Linked DNA regions of Homo sapiens: region 1 is linked to region 2. Evidence: fine-mapped expression QTL. A gene starts in region 2. The other region holds a variant in brackets. All regions are shown on one strand. Distances are between the middles of the regions.

The links.
Region 1: its variant is fine-mapped to the expression of ACVR2B-AS1 in stomach (GTEx, PIP above 0.99).

What each region holds. Positions count from the first base shown.
Region 1 is chr3:37,774,713-37,785,574 of GRCh38, reverse strand. ITGA9 (integrin subunit alpha 9) reads right to left here. Exons shown (of 28, transcript NM_002207.3): 24 at 8,058-8,183; 25 at 5,554-5,673; 26 at 497-598. The region is part of intron 3 of ITGA9-AS1 (ITGA9 antisense RNA 1); the gene reads left to right. Among named protein-coding and RNA genes, the nearest start is that of ITGA9-AS1, 82 kb to the left of the region's middle. The variant G/A (reference allele first, on the strand shown) is at 5,287.
Region 2 is chr3:38,448,763-38,459,624 of GRCh38, reverse strand. ACVR2B-AS1 (ACVR2B antisense RNA 1) reads left to right here and starts at 4,805. Exons shown (of 2, transcript NR_028389.1): 1 at 4,805-5,122; 2 at 6,400-8,598. ACVR2B (activin A receptor type 2B) reads right to left here and starts at 5,735. Exons shown (of 11, transcript NM_001106.4): 1 at 5,251-5,735. The coding sequence starts at 5,302. It also overlaps a transcript of XYLB not described here. RefSeq lists silencers at 4,066-4,245, 5,056-5,335, 5,756-5,875, 5,886-5,935 and enhancers at 3,881-4,465, 4,466-5,049, 5,654-6,153.

The sequences.
Region 1 (10,862 bases), 670 kb after region 2:
TTGAGGCCAGGTATTCAAGGCTACAGGGAGTTATGACTGCACACCAGCCTGGGTGACAGAGTGAGACCCTGTCTCTTAAAAACCAAACCAAACCAAACCAAAACACAGTATTTACCCATGGAGTAATGTGACGGGTAAGGCAGATGTGGTCTGTCTTAGGAAAGGTCTAAGAAAGATATAAATAGTCCTGGCTCCACAGTGGAAATCCAACTCTGTTGACGTGGGTGTACTTCCAGACCATTTTCCCTTTGGACAATCATAGCAGGAAACATTCACATAATGATGGCATCCTAAAGGACAATGCTATCACAAGAACGAACCACAGAAGTTCTCCAGGGGGGGCCTGGAAGCCAAGGCAGGCATAGTCTTGGGTCTGCCACAAACCCAACATCTTGGCTCAGAGACTGTCTTGACCCTCAAATTCCAGCTCCAGGTCTCCAAGTCACCCAGCTTCCCTTGCCCTCTGAGGAGGGCTGTCCTGGGGTGGCTGACTCACCGTCACCTCTTCTGGGTTCCCATGAGCTATTTCCACCACCCTTAGGGCAGGATCCACCTTCACCTTGGCGCGGGACATGAACTGGATGACAGACGAACTGTCCTGTGGAAGAAACAACACAACTTACTTGAAGATTTTTCTATGATAATGGCTGGGCCTTGAGAGGGACTGGGCAGAACTGAAATTCCATGATTCCATGTAGCCCAGACAAAAATTTTATCATTGAACTAGATACCTCTCCATCCCAGGCACCCACATAAACACAGACTAGGGTCTCTCTTAAGGATTCTTTGCAGATCATGGTGGATGGTGGGAAATGATGGAGTTTGCCAGTAATCAACACACGCAAGATGTGTGCTGTGGTTTCCAAGCAGTTAGAGCCAGATATTTGGATATTGATATTGACATGTTCACAAAGAGTTGAGGATAAATAAAGCTGTTTAATTGTGTAGAGCAAATCTAGGCCTGGCATTCCACAGAAGGCATCTGATCTACATTTTATAGGCATCTTCCTGCCTTGACCACAACCCTCAAACCCTTCATATGAGTTGCTTTTAACTCTTTCTTTGCTCTTAAATGAAGTCATTTTGGAATCAAAACCATTAAACATTGAAAGAGGATGCCTGATGGAGAGATGGGGAAGGGGTAAATATCTGGCTTATGAATTAAGGAGAAAGGGGCAGGGGTATAAGGGAGCACAGCTAAGACTCTGGAATCACCCCCCAGCCAGAGGCAGGCAGAGGTCTTCCTGTGGGCTCAGATTCAAAGACACTGATCCAGATAACCAGAAAATGGCGCCAAAACAGGGATGGAGAAAGAATTTGGAAGAAGACAGGGACTGGAAAAACTGTGGTCTGGGGAGAAGCCAGAACCTCAAGCCAGTGGTACAGGTTGATTGTGGAGCAGAAGGGCAGCCTGGCTTCTGTCGTGGAAACAGATAGCAGAGAACTAGTGCATTCAACATTCTACCTGTGGGGCAGGAGGGGCTCCACAGGCAAGGTGTCTTGTGGTGTCCCCACCTACATCTACCCAGCTTGCCTGTCATGCAAGGAGCTTACACTTAAATGCCACCTTTGGTTAAACCCTCAAAGAAACAGGAAGGTAGAGGACTCCACAGAAAACAGTTCCAAGGGTACCCTTTGCTCATCTCTGCCAAAGAAACCACAAAGACCTTCCTGGGGCACACAGGGACCCTGGTCTGTATATGTGACTTGGGAGTTATGCACCAATTATCATTCTTTTCTTAAAACAACCATAAGACACATTTTAAATGCTTTTGGGAAGCTTGTCATTCAAAAGAGTTACTCCAGTTAACTCACTTTAAGCAAGAAATAATTTTAAGCAACAAATAATCTTTTACCAATTTAACAGTTTTATAAAGTTGGGGTTTTATGTATCAGGATATGCTGTATTTTCAATCTTGAATAATAATAATAATCTTGGGCCAGGCACGATGGTTAAGGCCTGTAATCCCAGCACTTTGAGAGACTGAAGTGGGAGGATCACTTGAGGCTAGGAGGTCAAGTCCAGCCTGGGGAAACATCCTATCTCTACAAAAGATTAAAAAAAAATTCACCTGTCATGGTAGCATGTGCCTGCAGTCCTAGCTGAGGACTAGCTGAGGCAGGAAGATCACTTGAGCCCAGGAGTTTGAGGCTGCAGTGAGCTATGATTGAGCCACTGTACTCCCATCTGGGTGACAGAGCAAGATCCTGTCTCTAAAAATATTTTTTTAAATAAAAACATTAAAATAAATAAAAATAAACTTGGATATTAATAACGATAATGATGATGATAATTGCCAACGTTACAGGCCAAGCAGACGAGGAGTCTGGCACAGGATGGGCCCCCACGGTTGTAGAATCAGTGAGAAAAGCCTTACAGACTGAAAGAAGAATACTTCCAAAAAAATCCGAATCCTACGGTGATTTTTTTTTTTTGAGACAGAGTCTCGCTCTGTTGCCCAGGCTGGAGTGCAATGGCACGATCTTGGCTCACTGCAACCTCCACCTCCCAGGTTCAAGCGATTCTTCTGCCTCAGCCTCCCGAGTAGCTGAGACTACAGGTGCCCACCACCATGCCAGGCTAATTTTTGTATTTTTTAGTAGAGATGGGGTTTCACCATGTTGGCCAGGCTGGTCTTGAATTCCTGACCTTGTGATATGCCCACCTCAGCCTCCCAAAGTGCTGGGATTACAGGCGTGAGCCACTGCGCCCGGCTCCTACAGTGATTTTAAAAATCAGATCCTACATTTCAAATGAAAACTTGTTAAGGTCAAAACAGTAAAACCTCAAATTCCCTTGTCTGGGGCCAGATCTTGAGGTCAAAAGGAAAATAAACACGACTGCAGGCCCAGGCAAACCACAAGGCTGGCGCTGCTCCACATCCTTCGGGAGGCCTGGAGCCATGTGGGCTCCACTCCCCAAGGGAGGCTGTAGCTGGCTTCAGGGCAACTGAAGCTCTGGGAGCAGCTGGGGCCCCATCTGGCTTCCAGGTCAACTTTGTTCTAAGCTTTTCTCTGCACCTGGAAGTGCTCCTGGTTTCTGCTGAAAGGGCACATGGAGAATGAGCCTTGAAGGCTTCATATGACACCCTACAGCTTTCAGCTCTCTTGCCTGCGGCTCTACTGGCCTGGCTGGCCCATGGGGACAGTAGTCACTGGGACATGTTCCTTGGCAAAGGGTCACCACTGGCTGCCGGGATAGAAAAGCAGAAGAACCAGGCTGCAGAGCTGTGCATGATTAAGTGCAAATAACTGAAGTGCAAGCAGCAGCCATCTGGGTTGAGGATAAAGGAAACATCAGAGTGGCTTACAGCCACCAGTGCTGTCACCAGGGCTCTATGGACAGTGGCAAGTATGGCACAGGCAATAAAACTGTCTGCAGCACCATTTTTGAAGAATACAAACAGGACAGGTACATATGCAGAGGCATAGTCCTCCAGCCTGGCCTGCGGACACATTTCAGGAAGGTACTTCTCCAGACGTGGGGTTTTCCAGCCTCCCTTATGGAATCAGAGGATGGCCAGTGGTGCTCTAAGTCAGGCCTGGTCCTCCTCCAACACTGTCCTTTATAAAGGGAGAGGTACAAAGGGAGAAGAAAGCACTGCAGTGTGAGTCCAACTTGCCCCAAACCAGTTTCCCTCCAGAGCAAACCAGAGAAACCAGAACTATGCACAGCTCTCTTCAGGTGTGTGAGGGCTGTAACGGCTACAGATTGAAAATGGAAAAACATCCCCTGATGCCTGCATCCTCTCAGGTCAGTGTGTTACCTCTGTGCCTATTTAAAAATAACCACAGAATGACTTTTCTAAGGTTATTCATTCACACGTGGATAGGTTTGTACAGATTAACACATTTAGTCTTTCTAAAGAAAAATAATTGGAATCTCTGAGGCTAACATGCATATTTAGTTTTATCTTCACATGTAATTATTTTTACAGCAACTTGTTGGAAGTGGCCTCTCAGCAGCTCTCACCTTAAAATAAATCATAGGAAATTTGTATGATTCTTCAAGAGCCACCGATGCACTGGTTGAGGTGGTTTTTTAATGAACCACCTGTGATAAACTCATAATAGCAAAGTGACCTGAGGTTCAAAAGTTGGACCAAAACAAACCGTCATTTAAACTAGGACTCATGGGTCAAATCTGGCCCTCTGCCTGTTTTTATAAAGTTTTACTGGATCACAGCCATGCCCATTTATTTGAGTGTTGTCTATGGCTGCTTTCACAATACAATGGCAGAGTTGAACAGTTGCAAGAGACTGTAGGGCCTGCAAAGCCTGAAATATTTACCACTGGCCCTTTACAGAAAAGGTTAGCCAACCTTCATCCAAAGCGAGGTCCCTAGACTGCAGGACTGGCATCACCTGGGTGCTTGTGGCAACTGGAGAGCCTCAGACTGCACCCCAAAGGAATCTGTGTTTGAACAAGATCTCCAGGTGATTCTGATGCAAGCTAAAGCATGAGAAACTTAAATGGCCAAACAAAATCCCTGGGGAATGTGTTAAAAATGAAGATGCCGATTTATTAAGTCTGGGGTGGAGCCCAGGATTCTGCATTTCTAAGAAACTCTCAGGTGATGCTGATGCTGCTGGTCCTCGGACCACACTTTGAGTAGCAAGGGTCTGGTATTTTACCCTGGCATTATCTACCAGCAAAATTACCAATGGCACTTGCTGGAAAAGTTTCAAAAGGGGCAGCCAGACTATTACTAAACAGTTCAACAACAACAACTACAACAACAGATGTTGGTGAGGATGCAAAGAAAAGGGAACACTTATACACTGTTGATGGGAAGATAAATTAGTACAATCAAAAAAGCAGTATCGAGATTTCTCAAAGAACTAAAAATAGAACTGCCATTCCATCCAGCAATCACACTAATGGGTATATACCCAAAGGGAAAGAAGTATTGTATAAAAAATATACCTGCACTGGTAAGTTTATTGCAGCACTATTCACAACAGCAAAGATAGGGAATCAACTTAAGTGTCCATGAATGGATGACTGGTTATAGAAAATGTGGTATATATATATATATACACACACACACACACCATGGAATATTACTCAGCCATAAAAAAGAATTAAATTATGTCTTTTGCAGCAACATGGATGGAAATGAAGTCCATTTCCCTAAGTGAAATAACTCATAAGTAGTCAACTACTGCATGTTCTCACTTATAAGTGGGAGCTAAGTAATGGGTACCCATAGGCATAAAGAGTGGAATTAACAGACATTGGAGACTCCAAAATGTGGGAGGGGGGTGAGGGTTGAAAAGTTACCT[G/A]TTGGGTACCATGTTCACTATTGGGTACACTAAAAGCCCAGATTTCATCACGATACAATATATTCATATAAGAAGTCTGCACTTGTACCCCCTAAATACATAAAAATAAAAACAGTCTCTTGTAGACAGCCAAAAGGGGGGGCAGCCAGATTGTCATGAGGACACCAATTCAAATGCTTTCCTTTTTCCTTTTTTTTACCCAAAATCAGATGTCAACAATTCAAATGCTTCTAAATGCATCCACAAGTGCGGTTCATTAGGGCTTACCTTTTTCAGTATTTCTGTGTTCAGCAGCATGTAAATGTCTATAGTACGACTTTCTTCTTTAGCAAGAGCACTAAAGTTACAGTGTGCTGTTAGGCAAGAAATTCCTGGTTTTTCACAGTCCTGAGAAGAAAAGTCAGAAAAATTTCCAATGGAATTAAGAACAAAGACAAATCCACAACAATTTACAGAGTAGTGGGCTCCATGAACTTGGTGACTAAGGCAATTCCAGGCAGAGGAAATCCACAAGAAGATGCAATCGTTCTTTCTCGCCACCAGAGGGCATTCAAGGGATTTCCCACCCAGTGGGAACCAGAGCATGCCTTTAAGTCAAGCAACTGGGAGAAAACAGCTCACTAATTTATCCTACCAAGAATTGGATGAATTCACAAAGAGAAATAATTGTTTTTTTTTTTAAACCCACAAACTTAAATTTTGCATTCTGAAAGCATTCTTATGAGTTTTGAACACAGACACGTTTCCTACATTATGTGACTTCCACCTGTGTAGTGGCAAATATACTTTCATGCCTATTTATTAGGTAGGTGAATAAGAGGGCTAAGAAGTCATGTGACACTTCCTCAAGAAAACACAAAAGTTACAATAGAGACGTAAATCTCGGCTGGGCGCAGTGGCTCACGCCTGTAATCCCAGCACTTCGGGAGGCTGAGGTAGGGGGGTCACCTGAGATCAGGAGTTCAAGACCAGTTTGGCCAACATGGTGAAACCCTGTCTCTACAAAAAATACAGAAGTTAGCCAGGCATAGTGGTGGCCGCCTGTAGTCCCAGCTGCTGGGGAGGCTGAGGCGGGAGAACTGCATGAACCCGAGAGGCAGAAGCTGCAGTGAGCCGAGATCATGCCACTGCACTCCACCCTGGGCGACAGAGCAAGACTCCATCTCAAAACAAACAAACAAACAAAAAACCAAAAACATAAATCCCAAATTTAAGTTACAAAAGTTTTCTTTTTTATATGATAGGTTCCAAAATGCGTATACATACCTTGATGATGTTTCATCTATACGGCAAAATTTTCAGCCAGACAGAGTCGTAACTATAAAATCACTAGGTATCACTACATCTAACAAGTCTAAGGGCTTTCAACAATATCACCCTCACTATGTAAGTAAAAAAAAAAAAAAAAAAAAAAAACCCAACCTTTCAAGTGGCAAACAGTCACCCTTCTCCAACAGGAGAAAAGAATGAGAAAGGAAATGATAAAGGTGAGATGTGCCAGGGCTGAAATAAGGAGCTTAGAGAAATGTAACCAAAGATAAAAAAAAGGAGGCTTTGGAAAGCATTGTCATTCCATCTTCAATACCTGCACTTTTTAAAAATGGAGGTGTAACAAATATAGTAAATAGAACAAATCTGAAGTGTGTGTCTTTATAATTTTTTTTTTTTTTTGAGACAGAGTCTTGCTCTGTTGCCCAGGCTGGAGTACAGTGGCACGATCTTGGCTCACTGCAACCTCTGCCTCCCTGATTCAACCGATTCTCCTGCCTCAGCCTCCCTAGTAGCTGGGATTACAGGCGCCCACTACCACATCCAGCTAATTTTTGTATTTTTAGTAGATACAGGGTTTCACCATGTTGGCCAGGCTGGTCTCAAACTCCTGACCTCAGGTGATCCACCCCCTCAGCCTCCCTAAGTGCTGGTATTACAGGCATGAGCCACCGTGCCCGGCCTGTCTTTAAAAATTTTTACATGTGTTTATACCTGGAGGACTACCACCCTGATTAGGATGTAGGACATTTCCAGCATCTAAGCAGGCTCCCTCATGCCCCATCCCATCCACATTCCTCTGAAAGTAACCACCTTCTTGACCTCTATCATCATGATTAGTTTTTGCTATTTCTGAACTTCGTATAAGTGAAATATTACAATATGTGGCTTTTGTCTCTAGCTTCTTCCACTCAATATATTCTGTCTGTGAGATTCATTCATTAGCAGTAGTTTGTTATTTTTCATTACTGTGTAATATTCCAGTGTATGGATATACCACAATTGCTTACTTATTCTCCTATTGATGGATATCTGCATTGTTCTCAGCTTTCAGCTATTTTAACATTTCTGTGAGCATCCTTTTTCATGTCTTTTCTGGGAAGCACAAGTACTCATTTTTCTTGGGGATATACTCAAGAGTAGAATGGCTGTGTCATAGGATACACACGTTTTGTTTTAGTAGATATTATCAAACAGTTTCCCAAAATGTTTGCACAAGAATAATCACTCTTGTTTAGACTCATTCTAGTGGAAGAAACATTTTACTTTGTGCTTGGTGGGTTGCAAAGATTTATCCCTTTTCCAGGTAATAGGATTTGGAATGTAAATTTAACATTTTGATTGAAACCTCAGACTGAAAATTAGGAGTTGACCACAGTCTGTGCCTTTGTAAGTCAAATTGATTAAAACCAGATTTAGGAAATAATAAATATCAAATAGAAAACTGGTGTCTTCCGAGTGAGGACCACCCGTGTTACCCCAACCACTAAACAAATCCTTACCAAGACTTTTCTTCCAGACTTTGTGAAAAAAGCAAATATTGTGTGGAAGATATTTTCTTGTTCTTGAGGGATGATGCAGGGAGTTGGGTTTTTCTGGAAAGAGCAGTTTCCCTTCTCTTGGCCCACCTGCAAATGAAAAGAGGCCTGTCAGAGGAGTCATTCTCAAGAATGAATCATGATGCTGGAGCCTCTTATTGTAGAGGCAGGAGTGGTAGAACCCCAATTCACCTTTCCTCCTTGTCCATTTTGAAGTGGAGAACAATGGCTGAAAAGCTGAAAGGCAGAAGTTGTAGCATCAACAGGGCCAAATAATAGAAAATGTGGATCTTAGGTCCCCCAATAATTGATGAGATGGCATATAACATGCAAATGAGATGTGACTAGGAAATAGGAAGACTTAAGGAGTAAAATAAGCCTTATACTCCATGGTTTTGAAAGCACACTTAAGAACATCCTTACAAGCAATTCTTGTCTGAATGAGGAAAATGAGACTGAACTTAGGTCACTGGCCAACAGTCATGGAGTCAAGAACCCAGGTCTGGAACTTGGGACCAAGCCTGATGGATGATCTGCTGCCAGAGGTTTTCAACCATTCTAGAAAGCCCCCACGGTGCTGTAAAACTCCTTAGGGGTCCTTCTAGAGAAAGGGAATGAGCAGCAAGCAGGACTGCTCATGGTCCAACTCTAAAGCCAGAGTTTTGCTACCAAAAAAATAACTGACCAGTCTCTGCCCTGAGCCAGACGGGGACCTGCATGCTTGCCGAGCTCTTGGTGAGTGATTTGATTTTGCTTCTGACAGCAATGGCAACGGTGCTGAGTGACAGCAACATCAGAAACAAAACAATGGTGCTTAGTCTTTCTTGATGATTTCCTTAAGAACAGCACTCTTTCTGATGTTTAAATTGAGGAACTGTTAGAAAAATGAAGTCTTCTTTATATATCACCATATCACACTGGTTGTAGCTGAAGGCTGGACAGGATGTGAGGTTAAACCAGAAAATTAATAATTAGTAATTCATAATTTAGAATTGTGCTTACAATCCCATGGCTAACCACAGGCATCTGTTAAATTGCCCTGTCTATAATGCCCTTGAGTAAAATATAGTTGTTCAAGAATGTTTCAACTTTTTATTCATGGTAGGGAACAAAAACTTTTTTTGCTGTTGGTTTTTTTTTAACTTTTATTTTATGTTTGGGAGTACATGTGCAGGTGTGTTATATAGGTAAACTTGTGTCATGGAGGTTTTTGGTACAGATTATTTCATCACCCAGGTACTAAGCCTAGTACCCAATAGTTATTTTTTCTACTCCTCTCCCTCCTTCCAACCTCCATTCTCAAATAGACTCCAGTGTCTGTTGTTCCCTTCTTTGTGTTCATGAGTTCTCATAATTTAGCTCCCACTTATCATTGAGATCATGTGATATTTGGTTTTCTGTTCCTGTGTTAGTTTGCTAGGGATAATGGCCTCCAGCTCCATCCATGTTCCTGCAAAGGGCATGATCTCATTCTTTTTTATGGCTGCATAGTATTCCATGGTATATCTGTACAACATTTTCTTTATCCAATCTGTCTTTGATGGGTATTTAGGTTGATTCCATGTCTTTGCTATTGTGAACAGTGCTGCAATGAACATTCATGTGCATGTGTCTTTACGGTAGAATGATTTATATTCATTTGGGTATATATATACCCAGTAATGGGATGCTGGGTTAATTGGCAGTTCTGCTTTTAGCTCTTTGAGGAATAGCCACACTGCTTTCCACAATGGTTGAGCACATTTATACTCCCACCAACAGTGTATAAGCATTCTCTTTTCTCCAAAACCTCTCCATCATCTGTTGATTTTTGACTTTTGCTTTTTTTTTTTTTTTGAGATGGAGTCGCTCACTGTTGCCCAGGCTGGAGTGCAGTGGCGCGATCTTGGCTCACTGCAAGCTCCGCCTCCTGGGTTCAAGCCATTCTCCTGCCTCAGCCTCCCGAGTAGCTGGGACAACAGGCACCTGCCACCATGCCCGGCTAATTTTTTTTTGTATTTTTAGTAGATATGGGGTTCACCGTGTTAGCCAGGATGGTCTCCATCTCCTGACCTCATGATCCGCCCGCCTCGGCCTCCCAAAGTGCTGGGATTACAGGCATGAGCCACCGCACCAGGCCAATTTTTGACTTTTTAATAATAGCCATTCTGACTGGTATGAGATGGTATCTCACCGTGGTTTTGATTTGCATTTCTGTAATGACCAGTGATACTGAGTTTTTCACATGCTTGTTGTCTGCAGGTATGTCTTCTTTAGAAAAGTGTCTGTTCATGTCCTTTGCCCTCCTTTTAATGGAGTTGTTTTATTCTTGCAAATTTAAGTCCCTTATAGATGACAGAGATCAGACCTTCGTCAGATGCATAGTTTGCAAATATTTTCTTCCATTCTGTAGGTTGTCTGTTTACTCTGTTGATAGTCTCTTTTGCTGTGTAGAAGCTCTTCAGTTTAATTAGATTCTATTGGTCAGTTTTTGCTACACAAATAAACTAAAGCTAACAATGCTAATCTATTAATAGTGAATTATAAAACAAGACCACCAAAATTTGCTAAATTTATCTCTATTTTATCTTTGATCTGAATACATTCCAGGATTTACTATATATGTCTGAAAATAAATAAGGTGAAGGTTTATATCCTCAAGTTAAACTATTAGAAAAGAGGATGTTGCCTATAAAAGTTTCTCACAGTTTGGGACTTACTGTCCTTTAAAATTTAAGTGTCTAATAATTTGGAAATTTTGTTTTTTGTTTTTTGTTTTTTTTTTGGAGA
Region 2 (10,862 bases):
TGCGGCTCCCCGGAGCGCCACATGGCAGGTCCACTCAGGGGAAGGGGCATGCCCACGGCCTGCTACAACCCCAGTGCTCCGCTTGGCAGACAGGGCTAGCCTTAGCTCCTGAGGCCCCCAGGTGAGCAGAGAGGGGCTGCTGGGCAGGCAGAGAGTCCCCAGCAACAGGCACTTCCTGGCATTTCTGCGTGTACGGGAGGAAGAGGCTGAGTGCCAGCCTTAAGGCAACGGTCAGAGGCGAGTGGGCGGGTGCGGGCAGGCAGGCTGCCCAGCCACCCACAGCCTCCGCCTCCCTGAAACCTGAACCACTTCTGGGAAAACTCAAGGACGCCAGGATTCTCCTCGGTGGTAAGCTGTACACCAGAACCACTAATTTTGAACCAAACTCTCACGTGCTGAGCAGATTTCACTAAGCAGGAATCTCCTAGGCTTTGAGGAGAACCTCACCTCCAACCCTGCATCCAGAGTGGGGGGATGGATATGCACTCAAAAGCCGTTACCCCTACTTCTTACAACTGTAGACCTCTTTGAAAGCGTGAGAACATTCTAGATCAGTGGTTCCCAATCTGAGATGATTTTGCTCTCACCTCTGCCAGGGACATTTAGCAAGATCTGGAAACATTTTTGGTTGACATGATTAAAGAGGATCTACTGGAATTTGTGGGTAGAGGCGGGGATACTGCTAAATATCCTACAATGCACAGAACAGCTCAACCCACCACTACCCATACACAACAGAGTATCATCAGGCCCAAAATGTAATAGTGTCAAGGTTGAGAAACCCTGTTCTACAGTGAGGCCCATGCAACCAGGACCCTGCCTCAGGACTATCTAGAGTCTATCTACAGTCACTAGCAAAAATATTATCCAGACCCAGTCCTCAACCCTCCAGATCCCAATCCATGGTGACAGGTCAGTATCCGTGAGTGGATCTAAACTCCTGAACCGATACTCCTTGGTTCTCATTTGCACTACCCTGAGCTCCCAAGCAGAGGGGCTGAATGCATAGGCTGGCACTCAAGAGGACAGCTTTCTGGAAAGAGAGACCAGGGCTAGAATCTGAACATCCGGCAGGATCACAAAAGGCAAAGTAAGTGAGGTACCAAGGTGGAAAAAGCACCCCTCCCCCGCAGAACAAGCTGCCCCTTAAGACTACTACAGTGGATATGTGCAGGGCAGCCAGGACTTCAAGGAGTCTAATCAGGGGGCAGTAGGTTCCCAGTATCTGTACAAAACAGAGTGGGTGCATACAATGTACACACACATGCACACATATACCGATTTACATTTTCCTGGAGGAAGGGTCCACAGCTTTCATCAGATTCTCAGAGGGGTCTATGACATGGAGGACCACTGTATAGAATGTGGGCTCTTCATTGGCTCCTTATAACAGGAGTTCCTTAGGTGAAGTGCCAGCAGAGGTCCAGGTGCTTCTGGAGATTCTTGATGCCCAGAAAGACCCACAGAGTAGTACACAGTAGAGGCCCACCCAAGTGATGGGAGGCCATAGGGTTTAGATCTTATGTTTTTACCCAGCTATAGGGCCTGGAAAGATGGGCAGGTTTCTCACATCATCTGCCTTGAAAGGGCCCCTAAGAGCTAGGGAGGATACCCATTCCTCCCAAAAGGCAGCCCACCCAGACAGGGCAGAGCCTCGAGTGCCCAGCAGATACAAGGACAGGTAGCAGAAAACACTCTTCTCTGGGAGGGGCACCCACGGCCCATGGCTCTGTAGCCCATGTCCTTGGCAGCTACCGCTACACTAGGCCTGAGGGATGAAAGTCACTTCACTTCATGAGCTCACTCCCTCCGCCCTCCCCCAAGGAAGTGGCCAAGAAACTTCTTTGGGTCAGCCTATCAGAGTAATCAGGGCCTGCACTTCCTGATGGGATAGACAGGAGGCAGGTCCCTCTCCAAGAGCTCTGGTCACTTCACTTAGAATACTGTTTACCCCACCCCCATAAGCCCTTTGATCTGAACCCCAAGTACAGAGTACAGAGACAGGTGTCAGGAGTTCTTGTAGGATACAGCATTGAGTGTCCAGGATGTCCACTGAAATGCAAGAGCCAAATGGCTTGTTTCCCAAGGACACTCGGCCAAGCACAGACCACAAAAGACTTGAAGAATTATTAAAGAACCAACTAACCACTGACTGATCTTGTGACAAGCACCATGTGACATTTATTACACCATAAATTCTACCTTCCCTTCTGAGATTCCATTGTCTAATATGGTAGCCACTAACCAAATGTTCTGCAGAGCACTGGAAATGTGGAAAGTTAGAGTTGAGGATGTTCTGTAAGGCACACACTGGATTTTGATGACAGTACAAAAATGGAATGCAAAATGTCTCGTTTTAATACTGATCTCAGGCTGAAATTACTTTGTATATATCAAATTCAGTGAAATATACTTTTTTTTTGAGACGGAGCCTCACTCTGTCACCAGGCTGCAGTGCAGTGACATGATCTCGGCTCACTGCAACCTCTACCTCCCGGGTTCATGCCATTCCCCTGCCTCAGCCTCTGGCGCAGCTGGGACTACAGGCGTGTGCCACCACACCCAGCTAATTTTTGTATTTTTAGTAGAGACGCATTTCACCACGTTGGCCAGGATGGTCTCGATCTCTTGACCTCGTGATCCTCCCACCTCAGCCTCCCAAAGTGCTGGGATTACTGGCATGAGCCACTGTGCCAGGCCAGTAAAATATACTATTGAAGTTCATTCCATCTCATGGAAAGAATGTGTCCCCCCAAAATTCATACAATGAAGTTCTGACCCCCAGTGTAATGGTATTTGGAGACGGGACCTTTGGGAGGTAGTGAGGGTTAGATTAAGTCATGAGGGTGGGGCCATCAGGTAATGAGAACAGGATTCACAGTCTTACAAAAAGAGGAAAACACCCCCTTGCCCCACCCCACCCCTGTCATTTGAGAATGCAGTAAGAAGGCAGATATCTGCAAGCCAGGAAGAGGGTCCTCACCAGAACCCAACCATGCCAGCACCCTGCACCCTGGGCTCAGACTTAGAGCTTCCAGAACTTTGACAATATAAATTTCTGCTGTTTAAGCCACCAGTCTACAGTATTTTGTTATGGCAGCCCCAGCTAAGACACAGCTGTTTCTTCTTCCTTTTATTAACACGACTACTAGAAAACGTTGTTTTATATCTATCCATAGTTCATACACTATTTCTGTCACACAGCACTCTTCTAGATGTTCCTTCTAGCAGGCATTGTGTGCTGCACAGTATGGGGGTTATTCCAAACAGCAAGCCAGGAGCTTGAAATTAAAGGGCATCCCTGAAGCCAAAGCAACAGGACGGTCAGGTCTGCTCCAAACTGGGCCTGGGGCAGCTCTTTTCACAGTTCTCCACAGGTCAGGGACTGGTTGATGTGACTACAAGAAATACCCAGTGACCCCCACCTTCCTCCCAGGGCAGGAATACAGGTCCTTATAGTGTGACTCTGACTGCCCCCTGGCAGGGTACACTGCTCAGCACTGCCCAAGCTAGGTGACTGAAGCAGAGGAAAAAGAAAGGACATACAGTCCTTCCAGGGGTCTGATGCCGCCCTGCCCTGCCTAAGGAGGGAGGTGTGAGACTGGTGTGATCCCCAGATCCCAGGTCTCAAGCTGTCCTGTCTTGGGAGGAAGCTCTCCTAAAGGCCTGGGCTTGGAAGAGCCCCAGCACTTCCAGGGATCAGGCACCCAGCGGGTCTGGAGGCAGTCAGGTGGGCTGCGGTCTGCCTATCAAGTCAGCTTGCTGCCGCCCTCCCTCTAGCAGACCAATGCCTCCCCTTTCACTTTCGAGCACTCCTTCTTGGGGAAAAGGCATCCCAAGGGAGCGGGGCAAAAAAGAGCAGAAAGTCCAACACGACCACCACTTCGCCTCCAAGAAGCGGCTCCAGGAGAGCTGCAACGCCCTCTTCCATACGGTACTCAGGTGCCAGCTGGTCTTTGCCCTTCGGTTTCCGGACTCAGGCTGCGCGCGCGCGCGCTACTACCCTACAGAACTCACTCGCTTTCGGTGTAAACTAAGCCTCACGACGACGCACAGGAGAAGGTAGAACCAGGGTGGGAATGGGACGCAGATCCCAAATCCCCACCCCCGCAGCAGCGTGGGGACTCCGGCCCCGCCCCTGCACGCCCGGCCCCGCCCCTCGAGGGTTTCCCAGACTCCAGGCGGCTGCCACCGAGGGCGGCGGGGGACCCGCGCTGCATGTGTAATGGGGGCTGGGAACAAAGACGCGCAGGACCCGGCGGCCGGGTACCAGCCGCCCCGACCTTCTCGCCAGAGCTTCAATGCCCAGCTCCCCACGTTTCCCAGGACTGGCCAGGGGACGTCCCGGCGCGCCCGCCGGGGTTAGGCGCACCCCGGCACCACTGAGAGAGGGAAATCGGTGCTTGGACCGTAGGAGAAACAAGCTTTCCAGGCGGAACTCCGCTTGTTTACGCCCGCGCCCACATACCCCCAAACACACATGCGCTGGCCGAACACCTCCAGCCACACGCCCGCAGCCGCGGGCGAGCTGAGCGCTGGTCACCCACCCCGCCACGTGCCTCCTGGAGGCCCGAAGGAAGAGGGACCTGTTGGGTTTTCCATCTTACCCACCCCCTCCCCTCCCAAGTGCCCAAACAAAGCGGTCCCGCGAAGCGACCACACTCCGCATCCCGGGGCCAACGGCAGGGAAAGAGGGAGCAGGTGGGAGCCAGCACCAACAGCCCGCCGGGCCGGTAACGCGACGCAGACTGGTGGCAAGAGATGCAGGGGACTTTGGGCTGCGTGAAGCCGCCCCCTTCGCTTCGCTACACTTAGTGACTCTGAGGGACATGCAACCCTCCCCGCATGCTGCTGCTGCTGCTGCACCTACAATCCTGCCACCCCCAATGAGATCTGCCCACCCCTCTTGGCCGCCTTCCCCACGCTCAGGTTTTCCTCACTCTTTCCCTGGGTTCCACGCGCCCGCGTAGCCCGAACTCCGACCCTGAGGCTCCGCGTCCCGGCCCCCATCGCAGGGGCGCCTCTAGGAACCAGAATCCCGCAGATGACTGCACAGACAAGATCGTGCCCCCAAGTTCGGCGAGCCGGGCGCCCACCGCGCCCCCAGCCCACGCCCCCGGAGGTGAGGGCTGAATACAGGTGGTGCGGCGACGAGGCCCCGGGCCCGCCCTTTGTTGGTAAACACCGCGCGGCGCCAGAGGCCAGCCCCGCGCGCCCTCTCGGCGTCCCCGCGCCGCGCCCAGTTCTTACCGGCGCACAGCGATCCCCAGAGGAGGGCGAGGGCCACCCAGGGCGCCGTCATGTTCCGCGGCGCCGCCCCGCGCACACCCGGAGCCCGCGGGCAGGGCCGCACGGCGCTCCCGGGGCGCGCAGGGCCAGGCGGCGGCTGCGCTCTCCTTCCCGCTCCTTCCTTCGGTCTCGTTCCCTGCGCGCTTCCTGCGCCTTCGTCCCCGAGCAGCGTTCGGGCTCCAAGGGCCGGTCGGCGGGGCCGGGCTCAGGGCCGCTGCGGGCGGCGCAGGCTGCGGCCCGGGCTCCGGGGCGACGCGGGGGCCGGGGGGCGGCGGCGGGGCACGGGCCGGGGCGCGCCCGACTCAGGCATAGCGCGGCGGGGCTGGGCCCGGGCCCCGGGCGCAGGGGCCGAGTCCGGAGGGGCCATGAACGGGGGGAGGGGTGGGGGGGAGGGGAGCTGAACCGAGTCCAAAATGGCTCCTGAGCGGCGGCCACGGAGCCGAGCCAGCGGGGAAACCCGGATGTTGGATACAAAGAGGCGGGCGGGCTGGGCGGGGAGGGGGAGGGGAGGCGGGCCCTCCGGCCGCGTGGTCCGCGCCCCCCTGAGGGGCGGGGCCCCAGAGAAACAACAACACGGAGGCCCCGCCCCCATCCCGCGCCCTGTGGGAGGACGCGCGTGCACCAACTTGCTGGAGGACAGGGCGGGGCGCGCGGACGGAGGTGGCGGGAATGGGCTCCTGACCACTTTGCCCGGGAGCCTGTGGCCACTGCACTCGCAATTAGTGCCCCGCACGCTCGAGCCCAAGCTCCTGACACATGCTGCCCTACAACCCCGGAATGAGTGGATAGTCCCGGGACTCTGGCCCAGACGCCTCTGTGCCTTGGATTCCCCACCTGTGCAATGGGGGTGACAGTGAACCGTGGGAAAGTCGGATCTCTACTGATGGGCGAATTAAGTGGCAGAAAGAGGCTGACTTCCCTGAATTGACAAGCAGTCTCCCGTCTGCAATCCCTTGCCACACACTCAAAGGCACAGCTAGGGCGGGGAGTGGTCATTTAAACCCAACCAAGTGAGGGAGCGGGCAGAGTCCCGCCCCTCTAAGCCCAGCAGGTGGAAAAGGGCCTCTGGCAACCTGCTGGCCCTCCCTAATCCTATCTTGTCTTCTGCAGTTCCTGCGCCACCCACAGCGGCCCTGAGCTTCAATCTGCACTTTCAAAACTTCCCAGTTGCCTCCAGAGCCCTGCAGTTGAAGATCTTGTCTAGCACATGGTTTTGCTGTTTTCCTCACCCCGAACTCCCTCCTTGGAGGGCCATCGTTCTCTGTCTCAGATTCCACCCTCCTTATCACACAACTAGAGCTTCGGAGGAACGTGATGGGGCTCCCAACTAAGGAGGGAAAGACCATCATAGCTCAGGGATGAGGCTCCGAGATCCTCAGATAACATTAATTGTCCTCTGTCTTCTCTTGACTTGGCACATCCTTGCTTGGAGCAGGGCAGGAGCAGCTGAAAGGGAGGTGGCACCTGGAGGTCTCAGTCATTTCACTTCTCTGAGCCTCAGTTTTCCCATATGCAAAGTGAAGAGGTACACTCCCTCAGGGTTTTGCATCTTCTTAATGGCAGAAACCTAGTCAAACAAAATATTATGTAAATGTTCACTATAGGCAGGGCGAGGTGGCTCAAACCTGTAATTCCAGCACTTTTAGAGGCCCAGGAGGCTCTTGAGGTCAGGAGTTCGAGACCAGCCTGACCAACATGGCAAAAACCTGTCTCTACTAAATAATACAAAAATTAGCTGGGCATGGTGACACACACCTGTAATTCCAACTACTCGGTAGGAGGCTGAGGCAGGAGAATCGCTTGAACACAGGAGGGAGGCGGAGGTTGCAGTGAGCTGAGATTGCACCACTGCACTCCATCCTAGGTGACAGAGTGAGACTCTCTCTCAAAAAAAAAACAAGTTTATAAAGGAATGTATATTGTTCTGATTGACATTGAAATAGGGTCAACTACCCCCGGTCACCAGAGCAGCAGGAACACCTCAGGGGCCACACTTTGGAGGCACTGCCCAGAAAGATTTCTGGGTCTTTAAAAGTCCCTTCCAGTCCTGGGAAATTCTATGTGAAAATGATGGTCCCTGCTTGCTATAATCCCTACAGGTGACTTATTATCTAAGCCATTTAACACAGGATTGAATACTATGCGACTGTGTGCCAAGCAAGAAGCAGTGTTGTATGGGACACCCTAGCTGTGTATAAGGTATCTGGTAATAACACAGGAGGCCACAGTGATAGACTGTGATAACGGAAGTAATTCCATATCCAGTTTAAGTGTCTTTTCTAGGGAGTATAAATCGTTATCTCCATTCCAATATGGACTGAAAGGTATCGACTTTTATCCATGTGCCAAAAATTAGATTGGCTGGTTCCTCTCTTCTACTCCATACCAGGTCAGGTATCATAATAAGGACTCAGAGTGGTCCAAGCTGCCCAAATATCTGTGTCTTCCACTCTGACCTGTCTGGGAACCCCAAATTTATATCCAACTGCTTACTTGACAACTGCAGTTGGTAGCCTATCAGGCATCTCAAATTTGACCTAGCCAAAGCAGAAGTCCTCATTTTCCCCGTAAATCTCCTCCCCAGTTTTCCCTGTCTGAATCAATGGCATAAGCAACTACACCATTGCTCAAATCAGAACCTTATGAGTCCTACTGAAACCAGCCAAAGAGTCCCATAGACAGTTGTTTTTGTTTTTGTTTTTGTTTTTGTTTTTGAGACAGAGTTTGGCTCTTATTGCCCTCACTGGAGTGCAGTGGCACGATCTCGGCTCACTGCGACCTCCACCTCCTGAGTTCAAGTGATTCTCCTGCCGCAGCCTCCCAAGTAGCTGGAATTACAGGCACGCCACCATGCCCAGCTAAGTTTTGTATTTTTAGTAGATACAGGGTTTCATCATGTTGGCCAGGCTGGTCTTGAACTCCCAACTTCAGGTGACCTGCCTGCCTCAGCCTCCCAAAGTGCTGGGATTATAGAAGTTGACCCTTTTGCAGTTAAAGCTGGAAACTTACTTGTTTTATCCGAGTTCCTTCCTCAGGAAAGGACCTTCAGGCCTCTCACAAAAAGTATCAAAGAACTGAAGCCATAAAAAGTATCAAAAGAACTGAAACCAGATCACTGCACTAGATGCTGGGCCCCTCAGTCACCATGATTGCTTCCTTGCCCCTCCCATGTTCCTGTTTTCTTACATATTGTTACATTTCTTTCCTGCTATATAAACCCTTGGTTTTGGTCAGTCAAGGAGATGGATTTGAGACTGCACTCCCATCTCCTTGGCTGCAGCACCTGATTAAAGCCTTCTTCCTTGGCAATACTTGTCATCTCAGTGATTGGCTTTCTGTGCACCGAGCAGCAGGACCTAGACCAAACCCCTGGTGTTTCGGTAACAATACTTGATTCCTCCCATATACAGTCCATCAGCAAAATAGCCTCAAAAGTGTATCCACCATCCGACTACTTTTTTCCATGTACACTACTGCAACATTGTCTTATATCTGGACTGTTGCAATAGCAGTGAACCAGAAGGGAGCTTAACTGGTCCTCTGAATTCATTCTTGCCTTAAATAAATCTTCCATATAGTAACCAAAGTGATTCCCTGCCATCATTTTGATCATGAGCTCATCAAGCAAATACTAGGCTGGTTGAGAAAGGTGATAATGGATATTTGAAAAACGAGTTCTATTTGGGTTTTCTGTTCTTTTGAACGACTACAAGATTGCTAAATATCACATTTGGTATCAGACATCGGGTGACCAAAAACTGAAAGGCAAAAAAAATCTGAAACCCCAAATGTCTGCTGTAGAATTTATGGCAGTGAATTCTGCCATTAAGGCATTCAGTGTGTTAGGACCACTATTCCCTGGCTTCCCCACCCTTCAACAATCAAGACCAGAAACCAAGGAATTGAGAAGAATCAGTTGAACATGACATTCTTTAGTATCAAGCTATGGAAGAAGATGGAAAACTATAGCATTGTAATAAGACTTGGCATCTATATAATTATAATGAATTCTATTAAGGGATTAAATACATTCATTTAGCAAGATAAACTTTGAAAGTAACCACAGTTTTTATAATGTTATTTGGGAATTTCTTCATTTGAGAAAATATAAGTGGCCTCACCCTCTCTCAGTTTCTGAGAGGCCCTGGTTAGACATTCACTGTAGTGGGTAATTTAGGCATAGCAATACGAAATTAAACAATTTTATGAGAGTACCATTCACAGTGTATAATTGTTGGGGGAGGGGTGGGCAGTGTATACTTTCTTTGGTAATACAGTTCCCCCAAGACTTAATAAGCTATCTGTTATTTCCTAGACACAGTTCTCAAAGTGCTTTATTTCTTTGCCTTATTTATTTTCTTCCTAGACCTCGTACTTTCCCCGCCCCTTTCTCTTAACTTAATGGTGGTTACTTGAGGTCAAAAAAATGAATTGGCTTGGGTAGAAAGCTAACACTATCTCTCAAGAGAGATTAGATTATGCTGTGCTAATGGAAAAATCCCAAAACCTTAATGGCTTAAAATAACAAAATTTATATCTTTCTCGTGATACATATCCATTGGAGGTCAACAAACAAGCTCTACTCATTGTAATAACTCAGGGACACAGACTAAGAGGGCTACCTTTTGATACATGCTTCTACTATTGGAGAGACAAGGGAAAGAGAGCATGGTAAATGCTGGCCCTTAAAACTTCTACCAGACTGGGAAGATGATGGTTAGGTTGTTGGCTGCATTGTTTTTGAATCTTTCAAAATCTTCACATGAAAACACAGAGTAAGCTGGGTGTGATGGCTTATGCCTGTAATCCCAGCACATCAGGAGGCTGAGGCAGGAGCATCACTTGAGCCCAGGAGTTCAAGACTAGCCTGGACAACATAGTGAGACCCCCGTTTGTTAAAAATAAATAAAAATAAGGCTGGGCATGGTGGCTCACGCCTGTAATCTGAGCACTTTGGGAGGCCAAGGCAGGTGGATCACGAGGTCAAGAGATCGAGACCATTCTGGCCAACACGGTGAAACCCTGTCTCTACTAAAAATACAAAAATTAGCTGGGCATGGTGGCACATACCTGTAGTCCCAGCTACTCAGTAGGCTGAGGTGGGAGAATCACTTGAACCCAGGAGGTGGAGGTTGCAGTGAGCCAAAATCATGCCACTGCACTCCAGCCTGGCAACAGAGCAAGACTTGAATGTCTCACAAAATAGCAATAATTAATTAATTAAAATAAATAAATAAATAAAAATGAAAAACACAGAGCAACTGTATGGAAAAAACCAGACCATCCAAGTGCACTCACTGAAAAACCAGGTGACAGGATTTCCCTCAAAACATCAAAATACAAGCAAATAGAGACAAACTACTAATAGCAACAAAAGCTGTGTGGGCGAGCCTCTGCGCAAGAGGGAGCAGGATACAACAGGGTATATGACATACCTGAGAACCTCCAAGAATTCACACAGGATGGGGAAATGTTTAGCTCCACCCAGCAAAATTGGAGTCTTCATGGAAAACTCAGAACATTCAGTAGAGACCCAGAGAGTCACTCCATAGTGGAGCTAAACCAGCCCTAGA